2 linked regions of the Homo sapiens genome follow. The gene in region 1 interacts genetically with each later gene. Each region holds a gene or a part of one and is shown in the gene's direction. Other genes may lie near its edges.

The links.
Region 2: changes in TAOK2 (region 1) and CKM together harm fitness less than expected from each alone (positive genetic interaction), as found in Homo sapiens cells (one large-scale study listed by BioGRID).

Annotation. Positions count from the first base shown.
Region 1 is NC_000016.10:29,986,172-29,988,997, forward strand, and holds the end of TAOK2 (serine/threonine-protein kinase TAO2), read left to right. Parts: intron 1-93; coding exon 94-1,809; 3' UTR 1,810-2,187; downstream 2,188-2,826. UniProt on the Homo sapiens protein: Serine/threonine-protein kinase involved in different processes such as membrane blebbing and apoptotic bodies formation DNA damage response and MAPK14/p38 MAPK stress-activated MAPK cascade.
Region 2 is NC_000019.10:45,305,707-45,309,501, reverse strand, and holds the end of CKM (creatine kinase M-type), read left to right. Parts: intron 1-969; coding exon 970-1,093; intron 1,094-1,851; coding exon 1,852-2,041; intron 2,042-2,573; coding exon 2,574-2,752; 3' UTR 2,753-3,089; downstream 3,090-3,795. UniProt on the Homo sapiens protein: Reversibly catalyzes the transfer of phosphate between ATP and various phosphogens (e.g. creatine phosphate).

The DNA of each region.
Region 1 (2,826 bases):
TCCGCCATCCCCAGCTCCCTCTGCCAAGGAGCCCTGGCCTCTCACTTCCTTGATACTGACCAGGCCCCGGGCCCTGCATTTCTTCTGCCTCAGGACCTGAACAAGAAGCAGACCCAGAAGGACTTGGAGTGTGCACTGCTGCTTCGGCAGCACGAGGCCACGCGGGAGCTGGAGCTGCGGCAGCTCCAGGCCGTGCAGCGCACGCGGGCTGAGCTCACCCGCCTGCAGCACCAGACGGAGCTGGGCAACCAGCTGGAGTACAACAAGCGGCGTGAGCAAGAGTTGCGGCAGAAGCATGCGGCCCAGGTTCGCCAGCAGCCCAAGAGCCTCAAAGTACGTGCAGGCCAGCGCCCCCCGGGCCTTCCACTCCCCATTCCTGGGGCTCTGGGCCCACCCAACACAGGCACCCCTATAGAACAGCAGCCCTGCTCACCTGGCCAGGAGGCAGTCCTGGACCAAAGAATGCTTGGCGAGGAGGAGGAAGCAGTTGGAGAGAGAAGGATTCTGGGAAAGGAAGGGGCCACTTTGGAGCCCAAGCAGCAGAGGATTCTGGGGGAAGAATCAGGAGCCCCTAGTCCCAGTCCACAAAAACATGGGAGCCTGGTTGATGAGGAAGTTTGGGGTCTGCCTGAGGAGATAGAGGAGCTTAGGGTGCCCTCCCTTGTACCCCAGGAGAGGAGCATTGTTGGCCAGGAGGAGGCTGGGACATGGAGCTTGTGGGGGAAGGAGGATGAGAGTCTTCTGGATGAGGAGTTTGAGCTTGGCTGGGTCCAGGGCCCAGCACTGACTCCCGTCCCTGAGGAGGAGGAAGAAGAGGAAGAGGGGGCTCCGATTGGGACCCCTAGGGATCCTGGAGATGGTTGTCCTTCCCCCGACATCCCTCCTGAACCCCCTCCAACACACCTGAGGCCCTGCCCTGCCAGCCAGCTCCCTGGACTCCTGTCCCATGGCCTCCTGGCCGGCCTCTCCTTTGCAGTGGGGTCCTCCTCTGGCCTCCTGCCCCTCCTGCTGCTGCTGCTGCTTCCATTGCTGGCAGCCCAGGGTGGGGGTGGCCTGCAGGCAGCGCTGCTGGCCCTTGAGGTGGGGCTGGTGGGTCTGGGGGCCTCCTACCTGCTCCTTTGTACAGCCCTGCACCTGCCCTCCAGTCTTTTCCTACTCCTGGCCCAGGGTACCGCACTGGGGGCCGTCCTGGGCCTGAGCTGGCGCCGAGGCCTCATGGGTGTTCCCCTGGGCCTTGGAGCTGCCTGGCTCTTAGCTTGGCCAGGCCTAGCTCTACCTCTGGTGGCTATGGCAGCGGGGGGCAGATGGGTGCGGCAGCAGGGCCCCCGGGTGCGCCGGGGCATATCTCGACTCTGGTTGCGGGTTCTGCTGCGCCTGTCACCCATGGCCTTCCGGGCCCTGCAGGGCTGTGGGGCTGTGGGGGACCGGGGTCTGTTTGCACTGTACCCCAAAACCAACAAGGATGGCTTCCGCAGCCGCCTGCCCGTCCCTGGGCCCCGGCGGCGTAATCCCCGCACCACCCAACACCCATTAGCTCTGTTGGCAAGGGTCTGGGTCCTGTGCAAGGGCTGGAACTGGCGTCTGGCACGGGCCAGCCAGGGTTTAGCATCCCACTTGCCCCCGTGGGCCATCCACACACTGGCCAGCTGGGGCCTGCTTCGGGGTGAACGGCCCACCCGAATCCCCCGGCTACTACCACGCAGCCAGCGCCAGCTAGGGCCCCCTGCCTCCCGCCAGCCACTGCCAGGGACTCTAGCCGGGCGGAGGTCACGCACCCGCCAGTCCCGGGCCCTGCCCCCCTGGAGGTAGCTGACTCCAGCCCTTCCAGCCCAAATCTAGAGCATTGAGCACTTTATCTCCCACGACTCAGTGAAGTTTCTCCAGTCCCTAGTCCTCTCTTTTCACCCACCTTCCTCAGTTTGCTCACTTACCCCAGGCCCAGCCCTTCGGACCTCTAGACAGGCAGCCTCCTCAGCTGTGGAGTCCAGCAGTCACTCTGTGTTCTCCTGGCGCTCCTCCCCTAAGTTATTGCTGTTCGCCCGCTGTGTGTGCTCATCCTCACCCTCATTGACTCAGGCCTGGGGCCAGGGGTGGTGGAGGGTGGGAAGAGTCATGTTTTTTTTCTCCTCTTTGATTTTGTTTTTCTGTCTCCCTTCCAACCTGTCCCCTTCCCCCCACCAAAAAAAGAAAAAGACAAACACAAATAAAATATCTGAGCGGAACTGTGCCTTTGGCCCAGGCTGCCTCTGTCTGCTTTGTCCTGCCGCCTAGCCTCCCCGGTATGCCCCCAGGCTGACCCTCGGCCCGGCTCCATGACCTCTTCACCCCATCTCCGTTATCTCAGCCCCCTCACTCCTCCAGCCTCATGCTCTCTGCCTTCATAGCTTCATTGCACCATGACCACCACCGGCTCTGGGGTCTGGGCCCCTGTAGAACTTCACCGAACTTCTTGGTCCCACAGAGCGCCTGTTTGCGGGTTCCTTCCAGAGGTCTTAGTTTCCAGGCCCTTGGTCTCCTCATCCCTTGCCTTTTCTCCCAACCATGGCTGCAGGGGACCAAATTGCTCTCCTGCATCAGGCATTACCCTAGTGGGTTGGGGGACGGGGCTGCAGACCCTCCACAGTAGGGGGTGCTGAGCTGGGGGCAACCAGGCGGAGTATGAAGGCTGTGGCAGCAGGATTGAGTGTGGGCCTGGAGTGGGAGCTGAGTGTGTGAGGGGCCGGGCTGGAATGCGGATCTGGTCAGGGTGGTAGCTGCTGGCCGGTTGAACTTGTCAGGCCCTTTCTGGCCACCTCCTTTGCCCCTTTCTCCTCTGCGGCCCAAAAT
Region 2 (3,795 bases), on another chromosome or scaffold:
TCGCTGCAGCCTGGACCTTCCAAGGTCAAGTGATCCTCCCGCCTCAGCCTCCCCAGTGGCTTGGACTACAGGCATGTGTCCCACCATGCCTGCTAATTTTTTAAATTTTGTAGATATGTGGGTCTTGCCATGTTGCCCAGGGTAGTCTTGAACTCCTGGGCTCAAGCAATCCTCCGGCCTTGGCCTCCCAAAGTGCTGGGATTACAGGCATGAGCCACCACACCCGGCCATTTCCGGATCTTAATATTTTATGTTCTTTTTTTTTTTTTTTTTTGAGATGGAGTCTCGCTCTGTTGCCCAGGCTGGAGTGCAGTGGCGCGATCTCGACTCACTGCAAGCTCCACCTCCCGGGTTCTCGCCATTCTCTTGCCTCAGCCTCCTGAGTAGCTGGGACTACAGATGCCCGCCACCATGCCCAGATTTTTTTTTGTATTTTTTAGTAGAGACAGGGTTTCGACGTGTTAGCCAGGATGGTGTCGATCTCCTGACCTTGTGATCCGCCCGCCTCGGCCTCCCAAAGTGCTGGGATTACAGGCGTGAGCCACCGCACCCAGCCTTAATATTTTATGTTCTAAGATCCTGCTTCTGAGATGCTAGGATTGGGAGCTAACACACTACGATGGGAAGATTTTCTGGTCCTGAAACCAGATGTAGGATTACCAAGTGTTATCAGTTCTGATCCCAAGCTTCTGTTTGTCAAACATCCTGAGATCCCAAGGATCTATAATAATACTGTTCAAAGACTTAAGTCCCTAAAAGTCCTTGATCCCAGGATTCAGCGTTTTGCAGATCCTGTGACATTAGAGTCTACAGGTTTAAGCTTCTGCGTTTTGAGGAGGCAGATGCCACCCACCTCCCACCCCTCAGGCCCTCTTCCCCCATCGGTGGGCAGATGTTTTGGGGGAGGGCTGGGAATGGGGTTCCCACGGGGCTGACACCTTGGCCTCTTGCTGCGGCACCTTACTCTAGGCACAATGACAACAAGAGCTTCCTGGTGTGGGTGAACGAGGAGGATCACCTCCGGGTCATCTCCATGGAGAAGGGGGGCAACATGAAGGAGGTTTTCCGCCGCTTCTGCGTAGGGCTGCAGAAGGTGGGTGTCTGCCCTTAGCTGCTGACTTCTGACTCCACCTTGAACGCCCCACCTGCTTTCCGAGGCCCCGCCCCTTCCCCTATACTAAGCCCTGCCCCACCCATTTTCCAGGGCCCTGCCCCCCGGACCTGGCTCCACCCCATGCCAAACCCCGCCCCCCAAAACTAGCCCCACCCGCTTTTCAGGGCCCCGCCCCTGGACCCAGCTCCACCCTATGCCCAAGCCCCGCCCGTAAGGATCCGCCTTCAGGCCGGGAGCGGTGGCTCACGCCTGTAATCCCAGCACTTTGGGAGGCTGAGGAGGGTCAGGAGTTCAAGACCAGCCTGGCCAACATGGTGAAACCCCGTCTCTATACTAAAAAATTAATAAATAAATAAATTATCCAGGCGTAGTGGCGCGCGCCTGTAGTCCCAGCTACTCGGGAGGCTGAGGCAGGAGAATCGCTTGAACCTGGGAGGCAGAGGTTGCAGTGAGACGAGATCACGCCATTGCACTCCAGCCTGGGTGACACAGAGAGACTCTGGAAAAAAAAAAAAAAAAAACCCGCCTTCAAAGCGTTCTTAGTCCCCGCCCCTCAAAATCCTGCCTTGGTCCCCATTGTCTAGCCAGCACCCTCGGAATCTCCTACCTCCCTGTTCCCCTCAGAATCCCACCTCCACCACGTTCCCACGCCCTGTCCCTCCGGACCCTGTCCATGTTGCGGGTGCATTTGGGGGTGCCTGCCGGCGCTGACCCCTGGTCCTCTCTCTGAACCTCAGATTGAGGAGATCTTTAAGAAAGCTGGCCACCCCTTCATGTGGAACCAGCACCTGGGCTACGTGCTCACCTGCCCATCCAACCTGGGCACTGGGCTGCGTGGAGGCGTGCATGTGAAGCTGGCGCACCTGAGCAAGCACCCCAAGTTCGAGGAGATCCTCACCCGCCTGCGTCTGCAGAAGAGGGGTACAGGTACGGCTCCCACATCCTTTGCACCACGACGGAGGGGGAGCGAGGGCCCTTTGCAGGGATGCAAGGAGAGGTGCGACATCCCTGCGAGTTCTGGGGATCCGGCAAGGGCTGACCCTCTGTGAGCTTGCATTTCTTCCTCTGTAAAATGGGTGTCAATATGCCTATGTGATAGGAGTCAATGTGGGATTTTCATGATTATATAATATGCATTGCACATGCCCTTGGACCTCCCTCGGGGCCTCAGTTTCCCCATTTATAAAGCGAGGAGTGGTCAGGATTCGACCCTAGGCCGCCTGGCTCCAGAACCCACTCTCTTACCCACTATACTATGTTTGATAACTGAGTGGCGTGGTACCCCATCTGAAGTCAGAGACTCGTGAGCTCACGAATGAACAGGCATTACCTGTGTGCAGGTAACCTGTTACACAGTAGGCACTCACTACATGCGGCTGTTGCATTTGGCACGGGGGCCACGTCCCAGCCCCTCTGCACCTTCGCTGCCTCTTCACGCCCCTGTCCCTTGCTCCCACAGGTGGCGTGGACACAGCTGCCGTGGGCTCAGTATTTGACGTGTCCAACGCTGATCGGCTGGGCTCGTCCGAAGTAGAACAGGTGCAGCTGGTGGTGGATGGTGTGAAGCTCATGGTGGAAATGGAGAAGAAGTTGGAGAAAGGCCAGTCCATTGACGACATGATCCCCGCCCAGAAGTAGGCGCCTGCCCACCTGCCACCGACTGCTGGAACCCAGCCAGTGGGAGGGCCTGGCCCACCAGAGTCCTGCTCCCTCACTCCTCGCCCCGCCCCCTGTCCCAGAGTCCCACCTGGGGGCTCTCTCCACCCTTCTCAGAGTTCCAGTTTCAACCAGAGTTCCAACCAATGGGCTCCATCCTCTGGATTCTGGCCAATGAAATATCTCCCTGGCAGGGTCCTCTTCTTTTCCCAGAGCTCCACCCCAACCAGGAGCTCTAGTTAATGGAGAGCTCCCAGCACACTCGGAGCTTGTGCTTTGTCTCCACGCAAAGCGATAAATAAAAGCATTGGTGGCCTTAGCTTTGTGCGATAGTTATTGAGGGAGGACGTGCAATTGGCCACTGTGTGGTCTCAGAGTGGTTTGTCCTGTCTAGGCATGTACTAAACATGTCTTATCCCGGGTCTAAAATGAGGCAAAGTTAGGTCACAGAATCTAGTCCAAAAATTAGAAGGCTCTATGGGGAATCTGAGACCCAGAGAGACACTGAGCCCAGTGTCACTCACCCAAAGCATGGGCCCTTTCCAACTATGGCTTTGAATTAGTCATGCTCAGATCTCAAACACGAGGTCCACGCTGGGGAGGAATGCAGCCAAACGAAATGTCTGAAACTTGAATTTAGCCCAACGGTCTCCAGTTTTGAGACCTCCCATGCAGCTCGTCACATCTACCTATATTCTGCTTCTCAGTGGCCTCCTTCTGTCCCGTCTGACTTCATCCCTCTGTAGCTGCTGCCAGTCCCTTACTTTCTCAAGAACCTGCCATGGCTCCCCATTTCTCCTAGAAAGCTTTTCTGTTATTTTGCAACTCAAGGCCACACTGAAATGCATACCATTTGCTGGAGGCTCACCTTTCCAGTTCTTTCCCCATTACTCCTCTGATTCTTTCACACCTGACACCCTCCAATTCCCACCTCAATGTCTTTGACCAAGCTGTTTCCCTCTCCAATCTGTGAGTCTGAGCATCCCCATGAAGTCTTTAGGGATAGGCCTTTTGGAGAACTCAGT